Regions from separate parts of the Homo sapiens genome. Here region 2 is linked to region 1. Evidence: fine-mapped expression QTL. Tissue or cell type: testis. Region 1 holds a variant in brackets; the other region holds the start of a gene. All regions are shown on one strand. Distances are between the middles of the regions.

What was found. PIP is the estimated chance that this variant, and not a neighbour inherited with it, causes the effect.
Region 2: it holds the start of INSR, and the variant in region 1 is fine-mapped to the expression of INSR in testis (GTEx, PIP 0.91).

What each region holds. Positions count from the first base shown.
Region 1 is chr19:7,223,121-7,233,915 of GRCh38, reverse strand. The region is part of intron 2 of INSR (insulin receptor); the gene reads left to right. Among named protein-coding and RNA genes, the nearest start is that of INSR, 66 kb to the left of the region's middle. The variant A/C (reference allele first, on the strand shown) is at 6,056.
Region 2 is chr19:7,289,230-7,299,138 of GRCh38, reverse strand. INSR (insulin receptor) reads left to right here and starts at 4,725. Exons shown (of 22, transcript NM_000208.4): 1 at 4,725-5,347. The coding sequence starts at 5,248. RefSeq lists silencers at 4,144-4,323, 4,464-4,853, 4,874-5,153, 5,294-5,433, 5,484-5,543 and an enhancer at 5,525-6,283.

The DNA of each region.
Region 1 (10,795 bases):
TCACGAGATCAGGAGATCGAGACCATCCTGGCGAACATGGTGAAACCCTGTCTCTACTAAAAATACAAAAAAATTAGCCGGGTGTGGTGGCGGGCGCCTGTAGTCCCAGCTGCTCAGGAGGCTGAGGCAGGAGAATGGCGTGAACCCAGGGGGCGGAGCTTGCAGTGAGCGGAGATCGTGCCACTGCACTCCAGCCTGGGCAACACAGCGAGACTGCGTCTCAAAAAAAAAAAAAAAAAAAAAAAAAGACAGAAAAAGAAAAAACAAAAGACGTTTAGCTTTCCTGGGTGACCCAGTGTTGCAGGGATTGGCCATCCTTGGTATAAGGCATAGGATGTGCAGGGTAGCAGGACAGCAGAGTGGGCAGTGTGTGGGGTTTCTTTCATTGATAGGGTGGTTCCCAGCACTCGGGGTCAGGGCTTGCTTGTAGAAGTTTCTGAAAAGTTGCAGTCATGTTTCATTTCTTTCTCCCCCTACCTAGCACATGCCAGGCCACACAGCATAGTACGATGGTTTGGAACCAGGCTTAACCTGTTAGTAGCCGTGGGGCTCTGGGCAAGTCCACTGGAGTTCTCCGGGATCTGTTTCCTCTTTTGTAAAATGGGAACCAAAAGGTATCACAGGCTGGGCATGGTGGCTCACGCCTGTAATCCCAGCACTTTGGGAGGCTGAGGTGGGTGGATCACCTGAGGTCAGGAGTCCAAGACCAGCCTGGCCAACATGGTGAAACCCCGTCTCTATTAAAAATACAAAAATTAGCCAGGTGTGGTGGCTGGTGCCTGTAATCCCAGCTACTCAGGAGGCTGAGGCAGGAGAATCACTTGAACCCAGGAAGCGGAGGTTGCAGTGAGCCGAGATGGCGAGGTGGCGCCACTGCACTTTAGCCTGGGTGACAGAGGGAGACTGTCTCAAAAAATCAACACCAAAACCAAACCCAACATGTATCACAAGCTCGTTGTGAGGATCAGAGAAGAGGATACGGGAATGATAAACATGGTAGTTACATTGTTGCTAGCATTGTAGTTATATTGCAGCTGTACATTGTGACCTATTGTAGCTACTGTTATTTCTTTGATTAAGTTTAGCAACTGAAATTTTTTTTTTTTGAGACGGAGTCTTGCACTGTTGCCCAGGCTGGAGTGCAGTGGCGGGATCTCGGCTCACTGCAAGCTCCGCCTCCCGGGTTCACGCCATTCTCCTGCCTCAGCCTCCCAAGTAGCTGGGACTACAGGCGCCTGCCACCACGCCTGGCTGATTTTTTGTAGTTTAAGTAGAGACAGGGTTTCATCTTGTTAGCCAGGATGGTCTCGATCTCCTGACCTCGTGATCCACCCTCAGCCTCCCAAAGTGCTGAGATTACAGGTGCGAGCCACTGGGCCCGGCCAACAACTGAAATATTTAACATACAATAAAATGCACATGGCCGGGGTGCAGTGGCTCACGCCTGTCATCCCAACACTTTGACAGGCTGAGGCAGGCAGATCACTTGAGGTCGGGAATTTGAAACCAGCCTGGCCAACTACTAAAAATACAAAAATTAGCCAGACGTGATGGTGCGTTCCTGTAATCCCAGCTACTCAGGAGGCTGAGGCAGGAGAATCGCTTAAACCCAGGAGGCGGAGGTTGCAGTGAGCCAAGATCAGGCCATTGTACTCCAGCCGGGGTGACAGAAGGAGACTCTGTCTCAAAATAAATAAAATAAAATAAAATGCACAGATCTGAAGCATTGAGTTCAATGAATTTTGACAAAAAATATATGCACCTGTGTAACCACCACTGAAAACAAAATGGAGGACATTGCCTCATCCCAGCCCTTTCCAGTGAATTCCCAGTACCCCCGGGAATGAGGTGTTACAATGATTACTATCACCATTGTTGATTATTATTGTTTAGTTTGGTTTTATTGAAGAAGCGGGTAGAGAAAGAAATAGTTAGCCTCATGCAAAAAGTAGGGCATATGAGAGCCTGAGATATGGCTTAAGAAGAGTATTGTTTGAGAAGTTTGGCTGAGTGTGGTGGCTTATGCCTGTAATCCCAGCACTTCGGGAGGCTGAGGTGGGAGAATTGCTTGAGCTCAGGAGTTCAAGAATAGCCTGGGCAACATAGTGAGACTCTGTCTCTATAATTAAAAAAAAAAAAAGAGACAGAAAAGTTTAAGGTATGTTGGCAGGTAGTCCTAGATGGGGTTTACTGCCAGGAGCAGTTAGGATTCAAAGAGCAAAAATTTGAGGGTAAAAGGATGTATGGCAGGTTGTTGGTGGTGGATATATAGCCCCAACATCCAGTCACTTTAAACTCTTATCAAGACAACACAGGGCCGGGTGCCGTGGCTCATGTCTGTAATCCCAGCACAATGGGAGGCCAAGGTGGGCAGATAACTGGTGGTCAGCAGTTCGAGACCAGCCTGACCAACATGGTGAAACCCTGTCTCTACTAAAAATACAAAAATTAGCAGGGCGTGGTGTTGGGGACCTGTAATCCCAGCTACTCAGGAGGCTGAGGCAGGACAATCACTTGAACCTGGGAGATGGAGGTTGCAGAGAGCAGAGATCACACCACCGCACTAGAGCCTGGGCGAAAGAGAGAGACTCCATCTCAAAAAAAAAAAAAAAAAAAAAAACAAAAAACACCACCAAAAACAAGACAACACAAAGCGTTTGAACGAAAACAGCATTTGCAGATGCAAATTCAGGATCCGAAATTAATTCTTCCCCCCTCTTTGCTGAGCTGCCAGAATGTTCCAAGGAGATCCCTCCTTTCCAGTTTCCTCCGTGGCGCACAGGCTGTGCCGAGTAAGTGGGCAATTGTGAGTTTCTGGAAATCAGCGAGCTGGTGTGGCTCCTGGCTCCTGGCTCTGGCCAAGGGAGTTGGCTTCCCTGTGTCCATGCCAGGAGGGGAGGCTGGAGGCTTCTAAAGGCCGCAGCTCCGCTGTAGACACGCGCCTCCTTGGCACTGGCTTTGTTGAAATCTGTCCCTAGATAGTCTCTCTTCTGCACAGACCTCTGAGGTTTTTCCATACTGCAAAGGGCCTTGCTGCAGGAGGAACAGTCTGACCTAATCTCTCCTAGAGGAGGCCTTGAGCTAATATTTTTTATTTTTTTTTTATTTTTGAGATGGAGTCTCACTGTCACCCAGGCTGGAGTGCAGTGGTGCAATCTCAGTCCACTGCAATCTCCGCCTCTCGGATTCAAGCGATTCTCCCTGCCTCAGCCTCCCAAGTAGCTGGGATTGCAGATGCCCGCCACCACACCCGGCTAATTTTTGTATTTTTAGTCGAGATGGGGTTTCACCATGTTGGCCAGGCTGGTCTCGAACTCCTGACCTCAGGTGATCCACCTGCCTTGGCCTCCCAAAGTGCTGGGATGACAGGCATGAAGCACCTCACCCAGCCAAGGTAATATTTCTGAAAGGTGGAGTACCATGCTATGAGCTAGACACTTGGTGTGGTTTATCCTGTCATCGCCTCAGTGACCTCACCAGGTGGACACTGTTAGGATTCCTAATTTGCAGAGGGAGAAGTTGAGGCTGACAGAAAGGTCAGCACTGTGCTCAAAGTGATCCAGCTGCTACCAAGATGAACTGCAGGCTTTGCTCTGAGCTCACAGCCTGACCTCAGTCTAGAGCTGGGAATCTTTCTCTCCCTCATTGCTACACCTGATCAATTACTGAGTCCCATCCCTTTAACTGCTTACATGGCCTTCAAATCCATCTTCCCTACCTAAGCTGCCCATTCATTGACCTGTGCCTTCTGTCCATCTGCTGAGAGCCAGGTGCTGTGCGAGCCTCTGAGAATGTGGCCGAGAACAATATGGATAAAAGTTCTGAGCCGGGTACGCTGACTCATGTCTGTAAACCCAGTGTTTTGGGAGGTTGAGGCAGAAGACTTCCTTGAAGCCAGGAGTTTGAGGCCGGCCTGGACAACACAGCAAGACCCCATCTTTACAAAAACAAAAACAAACAAACAAAAAAAAGAAAAAGAAAAATTAGCTGAGCATGGTGGCACTGACTTGTGGTCTCAGCTACTTGGGAGGCTGAGGTGGGAGCATCACTTGACTCCAGGAGTTCGAGGCTGCAGTGAGCCATGACTGTGCCACTGCACTCCAGCCTGGGCAATAGAGCAAGACCCTGTCTCAAAAAAAAAAAAAAAAAAAAAAAGACTGTAAATGTATCCTCCAGAGTAATTCTTCTTTTTCATTTTTCAAAAGCATCCTTGCTTTGTTTATGCTTCCAAAAGTTTAAAAACTGTAGCTAAGTTCCAAGAAAGAAAAAGGGAAGCAAAGGAAAAGGAAAACACAGACCCAGAGGCCCTTTATGGGGTTGATTGTATGTGAAGTCCATAAATTGATGGAGAGAAGGAGCACCTTGGCAGTATTTACTTGTACTCTCCTATGTCATGGATTTCCTCTCCATTTTCCCAAGGGTTCTTTCCTGTTCTTAGAAATGTTTTGTGATTTTGCTTCAGACACAGTTTGTCTACTTCTTGTAAGCATTGTTCTTAGATTGCTGGCTTTATATCTATCACTCCCTTGCTCATCTGCCCATCCATCTATCCATCCATCCATCCATCCATCCATCCATCCATCTATCCATCCATCCATCCATCCATCCATCCATCATCCCTCCATCCACTTGCTCATCTGCCCATCCATCCATCCATCTATCCATTCATCCAGTCCATTCACCACCCACCATCTATTATCCATCCATCCATCCATCCATTCATCCACTCACCCATTCATCCATCATCCATCCACTCACCCATCCATTCATTCAGTCACCCTTCATCCATTCACTCACCCATCCATCCATCCACTCATCCAATCACCCATCCATCCATACATCCACTCATCCATTCATCCATCCATACATCCACTCATCCATTCATCCATCCATCCACCCACCCAGACGTCCATCCATCCATCCATCCATCCATCCTTCTGTCTACTCTGCCAACAATCCACACACCTGTCCCTCCATCCCTTCCAACCACTCACCCAGCAATCTTCTCATCCATCTATCCACCCATGCATACATCCACTTATTCATTCATCCATCCCTCCACCCACCCATTCATCCACCCATCCATGTGTCCATTCATCTCTCCATCTATCCGTGTGTCTATCATCTAATATAAGGGAGATGTTTTGAAGTATTAAAAGTGATTATTTTGTAGCATAGGGGACAGGGATTGTGTTTTCTTTACTTACTGCTACCTTATTAAATGCTTACTAGTTCTAAAAGCCCTGCAATTGATTCCCTTCAATTTTCCAACTCTATAATTGCAGCATCTGCAGATAATGATGACTTCTTGCCTTTTGCCAATAATTAGACCAGTTATTGCTGTTAACCTTGTTATGGCAGGAACTTCCAGAACAGTGTTCAGTGACGCAGCTGAATATGGTCAGCCCAGTCTCATTTCTGATTTGAGTGGAATGCCTCAATTGTTTTACTGCAGAGGATAATTATATAATTGTTAATACTCTTGACCTTCCTGTCTTTAGCCTCACTGAGTAAATGGGGTGTGATCATGAAATCTTGATTGTCTCATAGATGCAAGAGACATAAACGACATTTGTCTGTGTATAATGACAGCAGATTTATTTTGCTAAGCTGTTAAGCTGTTAAAATAAGCCTTTAAGCCCCCGCCTCAATTTTCCAGCAGAGTGGAATGTTATTTTGTTGCTTCTGGCCAAGTGTCGATATTCATTTTAGGGCAGGTCTTCATGGAAAGTCTGCTGGACTATAGGTCTGGATACTTGCCGGACCCTGTGTCATCACTAAAGTTAGGGTGCGTTTCAGAACCACCCTGTACCACAGTGAAGAGGGACAAATGGCCTTAGGGAGCAGGACCCATGGGGGCCCTCTGGGGCTGTTTCTTGTGCCCTGAGAGAGGCCCTAGATTTGGGACAGTCTGATTTACCTCCCCTCCCTTTTTTTTTTCTGGGTGATGCTACCCTGGTTTCTGTGTTGAAATATGACCCTAGTGTGAAGGTCGCGGTCTCAGACCATCTTGTTTCTGGTATGTTAAGAAACAGAAAAACACCTTTTAGGACAC[A/C]ATGTTAACCATTGAGGATACATATCAGTGTTCTGGAAAAACAAAAACAAAAACAAAACAATCTGTACCGCGACTGTGGTTTTCATCAGGGTGGGCTGCCTTTCCGATCCATAACCCTGTGTGGCTTGATGGAGAACATGTTTTGTAACTTGCAAGGGCATCTGCAATAGCCGGGTCCTCTTGGTGAAAGGGGAGGACCCACATTAGGTCTAAGCTGGCTGGAGTCGATGCAAAACTCTCACATGCTTTGGAAAAAGCACGTGATCTTTCGACGAGAATGCAAATGTTGACCGGGTGCAGTGGCTCATGCCTGTATTTGCAGCATTTGGGGAGACTGAGGCAAGCGGATCGCTTGAGTCCAGAAGTTTGAGACCAGCCTGGGCAACTTGGTGAAACCCCATCTCTACAAAAAATACAAAAATTAACCAGGTGTGGTAGTGCATGCCTGTAGTCCCAGCTACTTGAGAGGCTGAGTTGAGAGGATTGCTTGAGCTCAGGAGGTTGAGGCTGCGGTGAGCTGTGATCACGCCACTGCACTCCAGCCTGGGCAACAGAGCCAGACCCTGTCTTTAAAAAAAAAAAAAGAATGCAAATGTTTGCTTGATTATTCAGCTGGTATTTGACACACAGTTCTTTGTTCCAGAGGGACTGTCCAGCAACAAATAGTGAATTCGTTAATTTTTCACACCAAACCTATTGAAAATAACCAGAAAAGGTATATGCTGGAAAACTCAGTGTTCTAGAAACATTCATGTTTGCCATCCCAAGAGCAAAAGTCATGGAATGCCTGATGCTTAGTGTTAAGAGGAAGGAATTCCACACAGCCTGTGGCTAGCTTTTCTTATTTCATTGGTGTCCAAGACAAGATTTGAACTGTTTACTAAAGGAAATTAGCATCATAAGTCTCCTCTGGCATATATTTCCAGCATCCAAGTGGAGCTGCTGAGATCTTGCTCAAGAGTAGCAAAATTGGCAGGAGGAGGAGGGCATTAGTTTTTACATCAGCTTAAAGAATTTTTTTTATCAGCCATTTTTGCAATTTGGAAACCTGTTTGGAGTAGGGGTATATGGAGATGAAATTGGGCTGTTTCTAGGATTCACCTCCTCCTTCAGGCATTTTTTTTTTTTTTTTGGAAACAGGGTCTGGCTCTGTTGCCCAGGCTGGTGTGCAGTGGCGTGATCATGGCTTACTGTAGCCTTGACCTCTTGGGCTCAAGCAATCCTCCCACTTCAGCTTCCCGAGTAGCTGGGACCACAGGTGTACACCATCGCACCTGGCTAATTTTTATATATTTTTTGTAGAGATGGGGTCTCACTATGTTGCCAGGGATGGTCTTGACCTCTCAGGCTCAAGCAACTCTCCTGCCTCGGCCTCCCAAATTGCTGGGATTACAGGCAGGAGCCACTGCAGTTGGTACTTAGAGTTGTTTTTTTTTTTTTTTTTTTTCCCTTGAGACGGAGTCTCACTCTGTTGCCAGGCTGGAGTGCAGTGGTGCGATCTTGGCTCACTGCAACCTCCACCTCCTAGGTTCAAACCATTCTCCTGCCTCAGCCTCCTGAGTAGCTGGGACTACAGGCACACGCCACCATGCCCAGCTAATTTTTTTTTGTATTTTTAGTAGAGATGTGGTTTCACCATGTTGGCCAGGATGGTCTCGATCTCTTGACCTCGTGATCCTCCCACCTCGGCCTCCCAAAGTGCTGGGATTACAGGCGTGAGGCACCACACTAGGCCGATCCTCAGACATTTTTAATTTTCCTTTTTTAGTGTTACAGCCAGCCATTTGAAAAATGAGACTTCCCCCTAACCTTGTGTCAAACTCAGAGACGTTGTCATCTTGGCTTTGATGTGGTGGAGGAGAGGGGCTTCTCATTCCGGGACGGGGTTTCTCCACCTGGGGCCTGCGGATACTGGGGCTGGATTGTTCTCTGGGGTGGGGCCGTCCTGGGCACTGAGGGTGCTAGCAGCATCCCTGGCTTCCACCCATTCCATGCCTGGAGCGCCGCCCCCGAGGCATGGCAAACACAAATGTCTCCAGACACTGCCAGGTGTCTCCTGGTGGGCAGAATCGCCTCCATTTGAGGACCCCTGGACCAGGGTGCTGGAATGGGGGTGAGGGGCACTCTGCAATTATTCTCTGCTCTTTTTTTGAGGGGGGGGAAATGGAAACCAAGAGCCCATCATCAGCCTCGTGGCTCTGTGGTTTGACACTGCCATGCTACCGACAAAAACCACGTCCCTAGACTTGGGGGACCAAGGAATCTGGAGGAATATGATGATAGTCATTTAATGAAGGTGGGTTTATGTATTACTCAAGTGCTGGGCTGGGGAGTCAGGACATAGCCACAGGGAAGAAAACAGAAAGGTCCTTCCCTCTTGGAAGCCCCTCTTGAAACACCTAATTGGTGACATGGTACACTGGAGAATCAGAGAGTGTCACTCAAGCATTTTGGCTTGGTGGTGGGGCGGGGGTGGCGGGTCAGGCACTCAAGCACCCCTAAGCTGATCTGGAGAAAGTGTCGGGGAAGGGGAACATTAGCGTTTCTCCCTGAGGAATCATCTTACACCTATAACGGCAACTGGCCCACAGTAACATTGATGGAGCAAGTGTCTTCTTGTGGCTCGGCCGCTCAATAGCTGTGTGACCATGGGCAGGTTACTGAACCTCTCTGTGCCTCAGTCTTCTCCTCTGTAAAATGGGAACATCTAGGATTGTTGGGGGAAATAAATGGTTAATAATTGGAATAGTGCTGGGTGCATAGGAAACTCTAAGTGTTACACAGCATGTGGCCACAACCTCCCCTCTCCCCTCCTCTCTCCTCTTTGCTGCTGCCCTGCTGCCTTAATGGGATACTCCCCTCTCTGTCTCTGTCTGTCTGTCTGTCTGTCTGTCTCTCTCTCATCCCCTTTTCTTTCCTCTGTTCCCCCACCCCCACCTCTGATGCAGTTTGGACCAAGTTTTCTTCAGCCAGCTAATTTAGAGACAAGAACCTGGATATTTATTGGGCGTTTGGGGGACTTCCTTACAGCCCTAGGTCTCTGTGAAAAGGGCCCTGGATTATCTCTGCAAAAGCCCACCTGCTATTGGTTAGCCAGGACTGTCTCCACTTTCAGACACCAGCTTCATCCAAACACTCTTTGCTGTATTTATAACCACGGTGCATTTCCTCGGGACGCACATCTTACGGCTTCTTGGCCCCTTCGCCCAGGGTGCACTGCCTGGACCATCGCCCTCCGGCAGAGACAGTGTCTTTCTTTGTATGTTCTCCTTCCTCTGGTCGAGATGTGGCTTGGTCACCTGGAGTGGGGCCGTCGGCAAGTCGCCTGGGCTTCGTGGAGGCTCGCTGCCCCCATGGCGGAAAGCTCGGCCACACACCCTGATGTCTCGACACCTTTGAGTTGCCCATGAATGGGTTTTCAGAGCTTCCCGTGTTTACTTCGCTGCACGCCTCTGTTTGTGCTCTGGGGAAATTCTTGGCAGAGGAAAAGCCAATTGGAAAACAGCCCTGCTTGGTGTCAGGGCTTGAGGTTGAGGGAGAAAGACTGAAACGGAGATTTGCATGAGCTGGTTTGAGCATGTCACAAGACTTTGTCTTTAAAAAAAAAAAAAAAAAAATTGGCCTGGTGTGGTAGCTCACTCCTGTAATCCCAGCACTTTGGGAGGCTGAGGCAGGCGGATCACGAGGTCAAGAGATCGAGACCATCCTGGCCAACGTGGTGAAACCCCGTCTCTACTAAAAATACAAAAATTAGCTGGGTGTGGTGGTGTACGCCTGTAGTCCCAGCTACTGGAGGCTGAGGTGGGAGAACGGCTTGAACCCAAGAGGGAGAGGTTGCAGTGAGCCGAGATCATGCCACTGCACTCCAGCCTGGGTGGCAGAGCGAGACTGGTCTCAAAAAAAAAAAAAATTTTTTTTTGTTCCAGTCTATTCTGGTGGCTTAGAGGAGGGAAGATGGGAAATTTTGGGTTTAATAGAGTAATATCCATCAGGTTGAGGGCTTTGAAGCACCTGGGAATATCCATAAGTCACTACTGAGCACCAGCTGTATAGAGTTATTGAGCATGTATTGTCTCCCAGGCACATGGTCCTCACAACAATCTTTTCACAGAGCTAGGATTTGAACCCACAGTCTCTCTGGCTTCAGAACCCTAGCTTTTCTTGCTATACTCTGCCTTACAGAGGAAGGGAACTTTTGTACTGGGTTTTGAAGGGTGAATAGGAGTTCAATGAAGAAGCAGCACATTCTGTGCTAAATTTGGCTTCCTGATCCTCCTAGAATTGGCCAGAAGCCAATATCTGGAGGCCAAAATTGGGTCACTAGGGTGACCAACTCATCACAGGGCCCTGGATTATCTCTGCAAAAGCCCACCTGCTACTGGTTAGCCAGGACCATCACAGTGTGCCCAGGTAACCCTGCGTTTCACCCCAAAGCAGAATTTTACACCAGAGCCTGGACACCAGTTGAATTTTCTTTAACTCATTTCTGTCAATGGTTACCTCCAAAAATGCTCCCTTGTGTCTTTATGCTGGGCTTCTTTCTCTAGATACTTCCATTTCTTGGTTTGGGTGAAAATCAAATGAGGTAATTAATGCTTGTGACATGTAAAGTGTAGTGAGTGGCACATGGTAACCTCTTTAGTTTTAGCCAGTTGGTTTTTTTTGTTTGTTTGTCTTTGAGACAGAGTCTCACTCTGTCACCCACGCTGGAGTGCAGTGGCGCAGTCTCAGCTCACTGCA
Region 2 (9,909 bases), 66 kb before region 1:
TAACATGGCATATTCTAGGTTCTGCACTTTTTATAGTTGACCTTTCAATAGTGTTGTGGCTACTGGTGCCAATTCACCCCTACAGAGTTGAAAATCTGAATATAACTTTTGACTCCCTGAAAACTTAACTACTTATAGCCTGCTGTTGACCTGAAGACTTAGCAATAACATAAACAGCCGATTAACAGGCATTTTGTATGTTACAAGTATTACATACTGTATTTCTTTCTTTCTTACTTTATTATTATTATTATTTTGAGATAGAGTCTTACTGCATCACCTAGGCTGGAGTGCGCTAGTGGCATGATCTTGGCTCACTGCAACCTCCGCCTGTTAGGTTCAAGTAATTCTCATGCCTCAGCCCTCCAGAGTAGCTGGAATTACAAGCACACCACGCCTGGCTAATTTTTGTATTTTTAGTAAATATGGGGTTTTGTAATGTTGGCCAGGCTGGTCTCGAACTCCTGACCTCAAGTGATCCGCCTCCCTCTGTCTTGCAAAGTGCTGGGATTACAGGAGTGAACCACTGTGCCCAGCCTCTACACACTACAGTCTTAGAATAAAGCAAGTTAGAGAAGAGAAAATGTTATTTAAAAAATCACAGCTGGGCATGGTGTCATGTGGCTGTAATCCCAGCTCCCTGGGAGGCTGAGGCAGGAGGATCACCCGAGATCAGGAGGTAGAGGCTGCAGTGAGCCCTGATGGTGCCACTGCACTCCAGTCTGGGCAGCAGAGTGAAACCCTGTCTCCAAAAAGAAGAAAAAAAGAAAAAGAAAAAGAAAATCACAAGGAAGAGAAAATACATTTACAGTTACAGAACGCTACAATATTTATCAATGCCATAAATTTGTTTACAAGATGAATTGTCTGTCTGAAGCAGACAACCGCAGCTGTAGAGCTCCATTTATGTTACGTAGCAAGCAATTCAACTTTTTCTTGTCCTGTCCTGACTTTTCTCTGCTTCTCGGGAGCATTTCCAGCATCACTAGTGGCACTTTACATGGGTCTCAGGATGTTATTCAATGTTTGCGGTATTGCACTAAACACAGTGAAAAATACGCGGGAACCGCCAAGAGATCCCTTTTTACCGGGGCACAAATTCCTGGAGAGGTGAACTGCCCACAGGGAGATAATTAATGTAACATGGCATTTAAAGCGGATACTTGCAACACTTGCACTCACTCCAGTAGCAACAGGAGGTGGCTATGAAATTGTTACAATAACACAATATATTCTATAGTTAATTTTATGCAGTTATGATTGAATGCTGCATCTTTACATTTATTTACATTTCTCTTGACTTGGAATAACACCATGTATGGTTTGTAAGTGTGTGTGTACGTTTTAATACATTTTAACTTTTTGTAACAGATTTGTGTATATTTTATGTTAGCAAATTATAAAATAGGGCTGGACATGGTGGCTTATACCTGTAATCTCGGCACTGTGGGAGGTAGAGGCAGGAGGATCACTTGAGTTCAGGAGTTAGAGACCAGCCTGGGCAACATGGTGAGACCTCGTCTCTATAAAAAGTAAAAAAATTAGCCGGGCGTGTTGGTGCTTGCCAGGAAGATCGCTTGAACCCAGGAGTTGGAGGTTACAGTGAGCCATGATTGGGCCACTGCTCTCCAGCCTGGGCAACAGAGCAAGACCCTGTCTCTAAAAGAAAATAATAACAAAAATAATAAAACAGACTAGTATCTACATATATTTTATGCATTCATGACATACCTAATTTTTTTTTAATATTTCTTGGCTACCAAGTTCATCTGCAAGTCTTTTCAAACTATTGCAAATCTCTAAAAATGTTTCCAATATATTTATTGAAAAACATTCTGTTTAAAGATGACCTCACTTTGGGAGGCTGATCAGATCAGCTGAGGTCAGGAGTTCGATACCAGCCTGGCCAACATGGTAAAATCCCGTCTGTACTAAAAATACAAAAATTAACCGGGTGAGGTGGCGTGTGCCTGTAGTCCCAGATACTTGGGAAGCTGAGGCAGGAGAATAGCTTGAACCCTGGAGGTGGAGATTGCAGTGAGCTGAGATTGCTCCACTGCACTCCAGCCAGGGTGACAGAGCGAGACTCTGCCTCAAAAAAAAAAAAAAAAAAGATGTGCACGGTTCAAACTCATGTTCAAGGGCCCACTGCAGTTCTCACCCATGGCTTCACTTTCTCCTCTTTCTTTTCTGCAGCTACAGTGAATGCCTGGTTCAGTTGCAAGAATGCCTTGCCCACTCTCCTCTGGGCCTTTGCTCATGCCTTCCCCCACCTGAAACACATCCCTATGGCTTCCCTAGGATGGCTCCTCTTCATTTTCAGACTTAAGCTCAAAATCACATCCTCAGTCAGGTGCAGTGGCTCACGCGTCTGTAATCCCAGCAATTAGGGAGACCGAGACAGGCAGATCTCTTGAGGTCAGGAGTTCAAGACCAGCCTGTCCAATATGGTGAAACCCTGCCTCTACTAAAAATACAAAAATTAGGCAGGCGTGGTGGCATGCACCTGTAATCCCAGCTACTCTGGAGGCTGAGGCAGGAGAATTGCTTGAACCTGGGAGGCGGAGGTTGCAGTGAGCCAAGATCGTGCCACTGCACTCCAGCCTGGGCAACAGAGTAAGATCCATCAAAAAACAAACAAACAAAAAACCCCATGTCCTCAGCAAACCCCTCCCTATGCACCTCCCATTTCCCTCAGCTCATTACACACTCAATTATTTTAAGGGCTCTCTCCCTGGCTCAGTTGTGAACTCCATAAGGAAATGGGTCATGTTTATTTTGCTCACTGAAAAATCCCCTATTACTTATTGCTTGTTGATTCTCCCACTCAACAAATATTTATTAAGCAACAGATTTGTCAGGCACTGGGTTTAAGCAGTGAAACAAGACCGAAAAGATTTCCGCCTTCACGGGAAGGGGAGAAGACACAGAAAACGAATAAGAATTTCAAGGCCAATCATGGTGGCGCATGCCTGTAATCCTAGCACCTTGGGAGGCCAAGGCAGGAGGATTGCTTGAGGCCAGGAGTTCAAGGCTGCAGTAAGCTAGGATTGCACCACTGCATTCCTGCCTGGGTGACAGCAAGATTCTGTCAAAAGGAAAAAAAAAGAAAGAAAAGAAAAAAAAAAAACAAACAATTGCAGGTAGTGGGGTAAACATGCTATGAAAATGAGAGAGAAGGGGCCAGGCGCAGTGGCTCAGGCCTGTAATCCCAGCACTTTGGGAGGCCAAGGCCGGTGGATCACCTGAGGTCAGGAGTTTGAGACCGGCCAGGCCAACATGGTGAAATCCTGTCTCTACTAAAAATACAGAAAATTAGCTGGGTGTGCTGGCGCATGCCTGTAATCCAAGTTACTTGGGAGGTTGAGGCAGGAGAATCACTTGAACCCAGGCAGGTGATGTTGCAGTGAACTGAGATCTGGCCATTGCACTCCAGCCTGGGCAACAGAGAAAAACTCCATCTAAAAAAAAAAAAAAAAAAAAAAAAAAAAAAAAAAAAAAAAAAACAGAGAGAGAGAGAGAGAGAAGGAAACGGAACTGGGGGGAGGATTTGCAAAAATATGGTTAGGGATGGCACTTCAGAGATGAAGCCATCCTGGAGTGTTACGGGCAAGGGAAATGCTGGGGCAAAGGCCCAGAGGCAGGAATAGGTTTGGCCTGTTGCATGAACAGTGGGTCCAGCTCCTAGCAAACTGTTTATTGAATGAAAGAAGAATGAATGCCTTGGGTCTAGGGTTGTGCTGGGCGCTTTCTTAAGTTTTCTTTCCCGGGTACCTCCCCAGAACTGGCATGCAGGTATTATTAAACCCATTACACAAGTGAAACTGGCCCAGAGACAGAAAAGTCCCTGGTCCAAGACCACACAGGAGTGAGGGGTGGAGGAACCCTCCTCCCATTGAGTTCTGGCTTTCCTATACTGAAAGCCCCTTCCTCTCCTGCAGTAAGGTAGGTGGAACCGCTGTCCCGCCTTGTTGGTGAATGTCGTTGCTAGACTTCAGACACATACAGGCTGGTCTGCTGAAAATCAGAGATGTCCACCTGCGCCCTATTCGAGGTCTCCGGCGTCTTCTTTGGCGTCGTCTTTGCCCTTTCAGAAGCGTCTGCACATTTTTCCAGGTGTCATTTCTCCAACTTGAACACAGGGAGCGCACTGGGCACGCGGGCACGTGGCTGTCCCCAGGGGCCTGGCTTGGGTCTCGCCCCTGGGCCGGGGCGCACTCGCGGGCGGGACATCTGGGGGCGCCCACGCGCTCTGGGACGAGTGTCGCTGGCCAGGCCCGGACTGAGGAAAGGCGAGTGAGACACTACTCGCCTGGGGTGCAAAATTTAAGGGAGTGAAAAAAAAAAAAAAAGAAAGAAACCAAAACCACCTCGAGTCACCAAAATAAACATTTTAATGCAGTATTTTTTAAAAAATCAACAGGAATCCTCCAAAGCCCACTATGAACAAAATAGCAAAATGGTAGAGAAAGGATCTGTGCCGCTGCGTCGGGCCTGTGGGGCGCCTCCGGGGGTCTGAAACTGGAGGAGACTCGGGGCTGTAGGGCGCGCGGATCTGGGGCGCGCCCTCGGTCCCGGCGCGCCCAGGGCCTCCCGCGCGGGGCCCGGCACAGGGAGGCGGGGAGGCGGGCGGGGCGGGGCGGGGCCGGGCGGCACCTCCCTCCCCTGCAAGCTTTCCCTCCCTCTCCTGGGCCTCTCCCGGGCGCAGAGTCCCTTCCTAGGCCAGATCCGCGCCGCCTTTTCCCGCGGCCCGCACGGGGCCCAGCTGACGGGCCGCGTTGTTTACGGGCCCGAGCAGCCCTCTCTCCCGCCGCCCGCCCGCCACCCGCCAGCCCAGGTGCCCGCCCGCCAGTCAGCTAGTCCGTCGGTCCGCGCGTCCCTCTGTCCCGGAGCCCGCAGATCGCGACCCAGAGCGCGCGGGGCCGAGAGCCGAGAGACAGTCCCGGGCGCAGCGCGGAGCTCCGGGCCCCGAGATCCTGGGACGGGGCCCGGGCCGCAGCGGCCGGGGGGTCGGGGCCACCACCGCAAGGGCCTCCGCTCAGTATTTGTAGCTGGCGAAGCCGCGCGCGCCCTTCCCGGGGCTGCCTCTGGGCCCTCCCCGGCAGGGGGGCTGCGGCCCGCGGGTCGCGGGCGTGGAAGAGAAGGACGCGCGGCCCCCAGCGCCTCTTGGGTGGCCGCCTCGGAGCATGACCCCCGCGGGCCAGCGCCGCGCGCTCTGATCCGAGGAGACCCCGCGCTCCCGCAGCCATGGCCACCGGGGGCCGGCGGGGGGCGGCGGCCGCGCCGCTGCTGGTGGCGGTGGCCGCGCTGCTACTGGGCGCCGCGGGCCACCTGTACCCCGGAGAGGGTGAGTCTGGGGGCGCGGGCGTGGGCGGGGAGCGCCGCGATGGGGAGAGGACCCCACCCAAGCCAAAATCGAGCCCCCGCTTGTGGACTGAGAACCCTCCCCAGGGGCGGGGGGCGGTGGCCAGGACGGTAGCTCCTGCATCGCGTAGGGGGAGCGGGAAGCCTCTGACCTTGGCCTTTGCCCGCCCGGGCTCGCGCCTCCGCGCCCTGCGTGCCCGACCTGAGCCCGAGGAACCTTGCCCCGGTGCCCGCCCCGCCGCGGGCTCCTCTCTGGAGCGCGCCTCCGACCCGTGCCCCGGCCCCTCCGAGCCCAAGTCGCTCCGGAGACACGACACGCGTCATCTTTGGGTCGCGGCCGGGAAGTGGGGTCACTGGGTCTGGACAGCCCCGAACAGCCAAGTCCCCCGAGCGCATATGGTGTAGGTAGAGCCAAGCGCCCTGAGTGCCTCACCGGTGGGTGACGCTGCCTGGGGTCAGGGACTGCAGAGCCCCCCTCTACCCAACTACCTTGGATCTAGGCCCGTGGCCACCCCGGACTCTAGGTCCATGTTTACCCTTTTGGGTTCTGTTTCCAGATGTCCGGAGGCAAATTCTAAAGCCTTAGCAACAGCAGCAATTGTAGCAGAAGTAGTGGCGGTTTTTTACCCTATTTATTGTAATTGGTATCACCGCACGCCACAGCCTAGTCTATCTTATCTCTCTGGACTGTCACAGTGGCCCCCGGAGGCAGATACAGTTATGCACCCATTTCACAGAGGAGTAAACTGAGGCTCATGTAGGACGCATAACTCCCTTGCCCTAAAGTCAGTGCCAGAGCCAGGACTTGAGCCTCTGTGTGTCCCGTTCTGCCCAAGAATCTGGACTACTGTCCCTTGTCTGCTGTCTCCTTGACCCCTCCTCTCCCCTCAGCCCTGCGCTTCATGAAGGAGCCTTTGACCTTGAGTGAGCCTTTCGTTCCCCCTGACCCCATGGGCCCCTCTCCCACGTGTGGGCAGCATCTTCCTTGGGCTTGACAATAGGCACCTTTGGGGTTGTAAGATGAAGATGGCGCAATCATTTAAGGAATATAGCCTGGGTTTCCCACTGTGGGGTCTGAGGCCCTGCTTTAAAAATATCTGTTGGGTTACTGTTTCAGATTTCTCCATAAAAGGAAATCAGTCGTGATGAGGAAGGGGTCAGGGAGGGAAGGAATTGAAGCTCTTAAATGTATTGATGGGGAAACGGGTGCATGTAAAATCAGGTGCTAGAGTGGACCAACCGGGTTTGCTGAGTCGACTCTGTCAATCACATAATGTCTAAAAGCCCCGGGCCCACCCCCCCCCAGCCCCGCCCCCAGGTGCCTGGGAGACAGTAGGTGCTCAATGAAGGGTGGCGGTTAGTTGGAGTTCTTGTTAAGAAAATCTGGCCAGCTGCGGTGGCTCAAGCCTGTAATCTCAGCATTTTGGGAGGCTGAGGCGGGCGGATCACGAGGTCAGGAGATGGAGACCATCCTGGCCAACATGGTGAAACTCCCTTCTCTGCTCAAAATACAAAAATTACCTGGGTTTGGTGGCGTTCGCCTGTAGTCCCAGCTACTTGGGAGGCTGAGGCGGGACAATTGCTTGAACCCGGGAGGAGGAGGTTGCTGTGAGCTCAGATGGCACCACTGCACTCCAGCCTGGCCAAAGAGCGAGACTTTGTCTCAAAAAAATAAAAAAAAAGGCGGGGCGTGGTGGCTCACGCTTGTAATCCCAGCACTTTGGGAGGCCGAGGCGGGTGGATCACCAGTTCAGGAGATCACGACCATCCTGGCTAACACGGTAAAACCCTGTCTCTACTGAAAAATAGAAAAAATTAGCCGGGCGTGGTGGCGGGCGCCTGTAGTCCCAGCTATTCCGGAGGCTGAGGCAGGAGAATGGCGTAAACCCGGGAGGCGGAGCTTGCAGTGAGCCAAGATCGTGCCACTGGGCGACAGAGCGAGACTCTGTCTCAAAAATAAATAAATAAATAAAAAGAAAATCCAAGATGAGTGGTTTCGAACTATGCCAGATTCTATGTGTGCGTGTGTGTGGTTCCCTGTTCTTCTGTTCCTTGTAGCTTTGGTAATTAATTGTGGATCTGTGCCTGGGCTTTCAGGGTCAGTAAATGGATTTACCATTTCTTTGCACATTTATGGCTTCCATATGGGCAGGGGTTTATGGTTTGTTGTTGTTCACCGTTGCATTTCTAGAGCCCAGAACGATGCCTGGCACATAGTAGGTGTTCAGTAAATATTTGTTCTGCAGTGGGGCACAAGTGGTGGAGTTCCTGGGTGTACTGGGCTCCTTTATCATCTTAAGGAGTTCCTTATTCTCTGCATAATACCTTCCTAAGAATTAGAAGAGCAAGCTCTCAGCAGGTGCTGTTCTATGCGCTTTGCATATATAATCTCAGTTAATCCTCACGGCAAAACCCCACGAGGTGCGGTTTAATCTTCCCTTTTCACAAGTGAGAAAACTTCGCTTGAGGCCAGCAGGCAGCAGGGCTGGGATTGCAATCTAGCTAGTGTGGCTGCAGAGCAATGGTTTCTTAACAAATCTTTGTTCTTTTGAGTCCGAGCCTCCGTACCCCCCACGATTGGGGTGATGGTGAACAAAATCCTGTCAAATAAATGGGCTGTGATGCCTCTTGAAGGCTTGGGGAGGGGCAAAGAACTTTTCAGATCATTAATCTCTAATGTCAACCAATATGGCTTTTTTTTTTTTGAGACGGAGTCTTGCTCTGTCACCCAGGCTGGAGTGCAGTGGCACGATCTCAGCTCACTGCAACCTCCACCTCCCAGGTTCAAGGGATTCTCCTGCCTCAGCCTCCCCAGTAGCTGGGATTACAGGCGTGTTCCACAACACCGGCTTATTTTTTGTATTTTTAGTAGAGACAGGGCTTTGCTGTGTTAGCCAGGATGGTCTCGACCTCCTGATCTTGTGATCCACCCGCCTCGGCCTCCCAAAGTGTTGGGATTACAGGAGTGAGCCACCGTACCTGGCCTTTTTTTTTTTCTTTTTTTTTTTTGAGACAGGGTGTCACTCTGTCACCCGGGCTGGAGTGCAGTGACACGATCTTTGCGACCTCCGCCTTTCAGGTTCAAGTGCATCTCCTGCCTCAGCCTCCTGAGTAGCTGGGATTACAGTCGTGTATCACCACCCTTGGCTAATTTTTGTATTTTTAGTAGAGATGGGATTTCGCCATATTGGTTAGGCTGGTCTCAAACTTCTGACCTCAAGTGATCTGCCTGCCTCGGCCTTCCAAAGACCTGGGATTATAGGTGTGAGCCATCACTCCGGGCCCAATATGGCATTTTGATTGGGATGAAGGGTGGAGGAAAATCAGTGTGATTTTTGTATCTATCTCTCTAGCTATCTATTATTTTTTGAGATGAGGTCTTGCTCTGTTGCTTAGGCTGGAGTGCAGTTGGGCAATGATGGCTCACTGCAGCCTCGACCTCCTGGACGCAAGCCATCCTCCTATTTTAGCCTCCGTAGTAGCTGGGACCACAGGCACACGCCACCCTGCCTGGCTAATTTTTACTTTAATGTGTAGAGCTGAAGTCTTGCTATTTTGTCCAGGCTGGTCTCAAACTCCTGGCCTCAAGCGATCTGCCTGCCTTGGCCTCCCGAAGTGCTGGGATCACAGGCATGAGCCACGGTGTCTGGCCTCTGCAGTTATTCTTATTCTTTGCTTCTCTCCTGGAGACCTGCTTCTTGCCCTTCCCCATTCATGCATAGAGACCACAGGGTGTGGGCTGAGTCCCCAGGGCTCCCCACCTCACCCCACTCTACCCTTGACTTCCATTCCTCTTTGGTTTAAGCAGAACTCTCAATCTTGGCACTGCTGACATTTGGGGCTGGATCATTCCTGGTGGTGGGGGCTGTCCTGTATGTAGAGTGTTGAGCTGGAACCATGGTCTCCACCCATGTGGTCCTGGGAGGATCCCCTTCCCCCCAGGCATGACAACCACTAATGTCTCCAGACATTGCCAGGCACGTCTCTGCAGGAGTTAACCTTTTCCCTGTCTGAGACATTTACCCATCTGGGCTCTTGCTCTTTCTCCTCTCTTTGTTCAATAATCCTCGGCCGGGTGCAGTGGCTCACGCCTGTAATCCCAACACCTTGGGAGGCTGAGGTGGGCGGATCCCCTGAGGTCAGGAGTTTGAGACCACCCTGGCCAACATGGTGAAACCCCATCTCTACTAAAAATGCAAAAATTAGCCAGGTGTGGTGGCGGGTCCTTGTAATCCTAGCTACTTGGGAGGCTGAGGCAGGAGAATCGCTTGAACCTGGGAGGCAGAGCTTGCAGTGAGCCGAGATCACACCATTGCATTCTAGCCTGGGCAACAGAGAGAGACTCTGTCTCAAAAAAAAAAAAAAAAAAGAAAAGAAAAAAGAATCTTCATTTACCCACGTGCTTTTTCAGCCTCTAAACACCCAGTACCCCCCAATCCCCATTACCTACCACTGACCTCCAGCCTCCACCCTGTCCAGCTTCCCCAGGCCAGTCCTCCCTGCCCTTTCCATCTCACTCTTTTCTCACTGTTCTGCCCCCAGCAT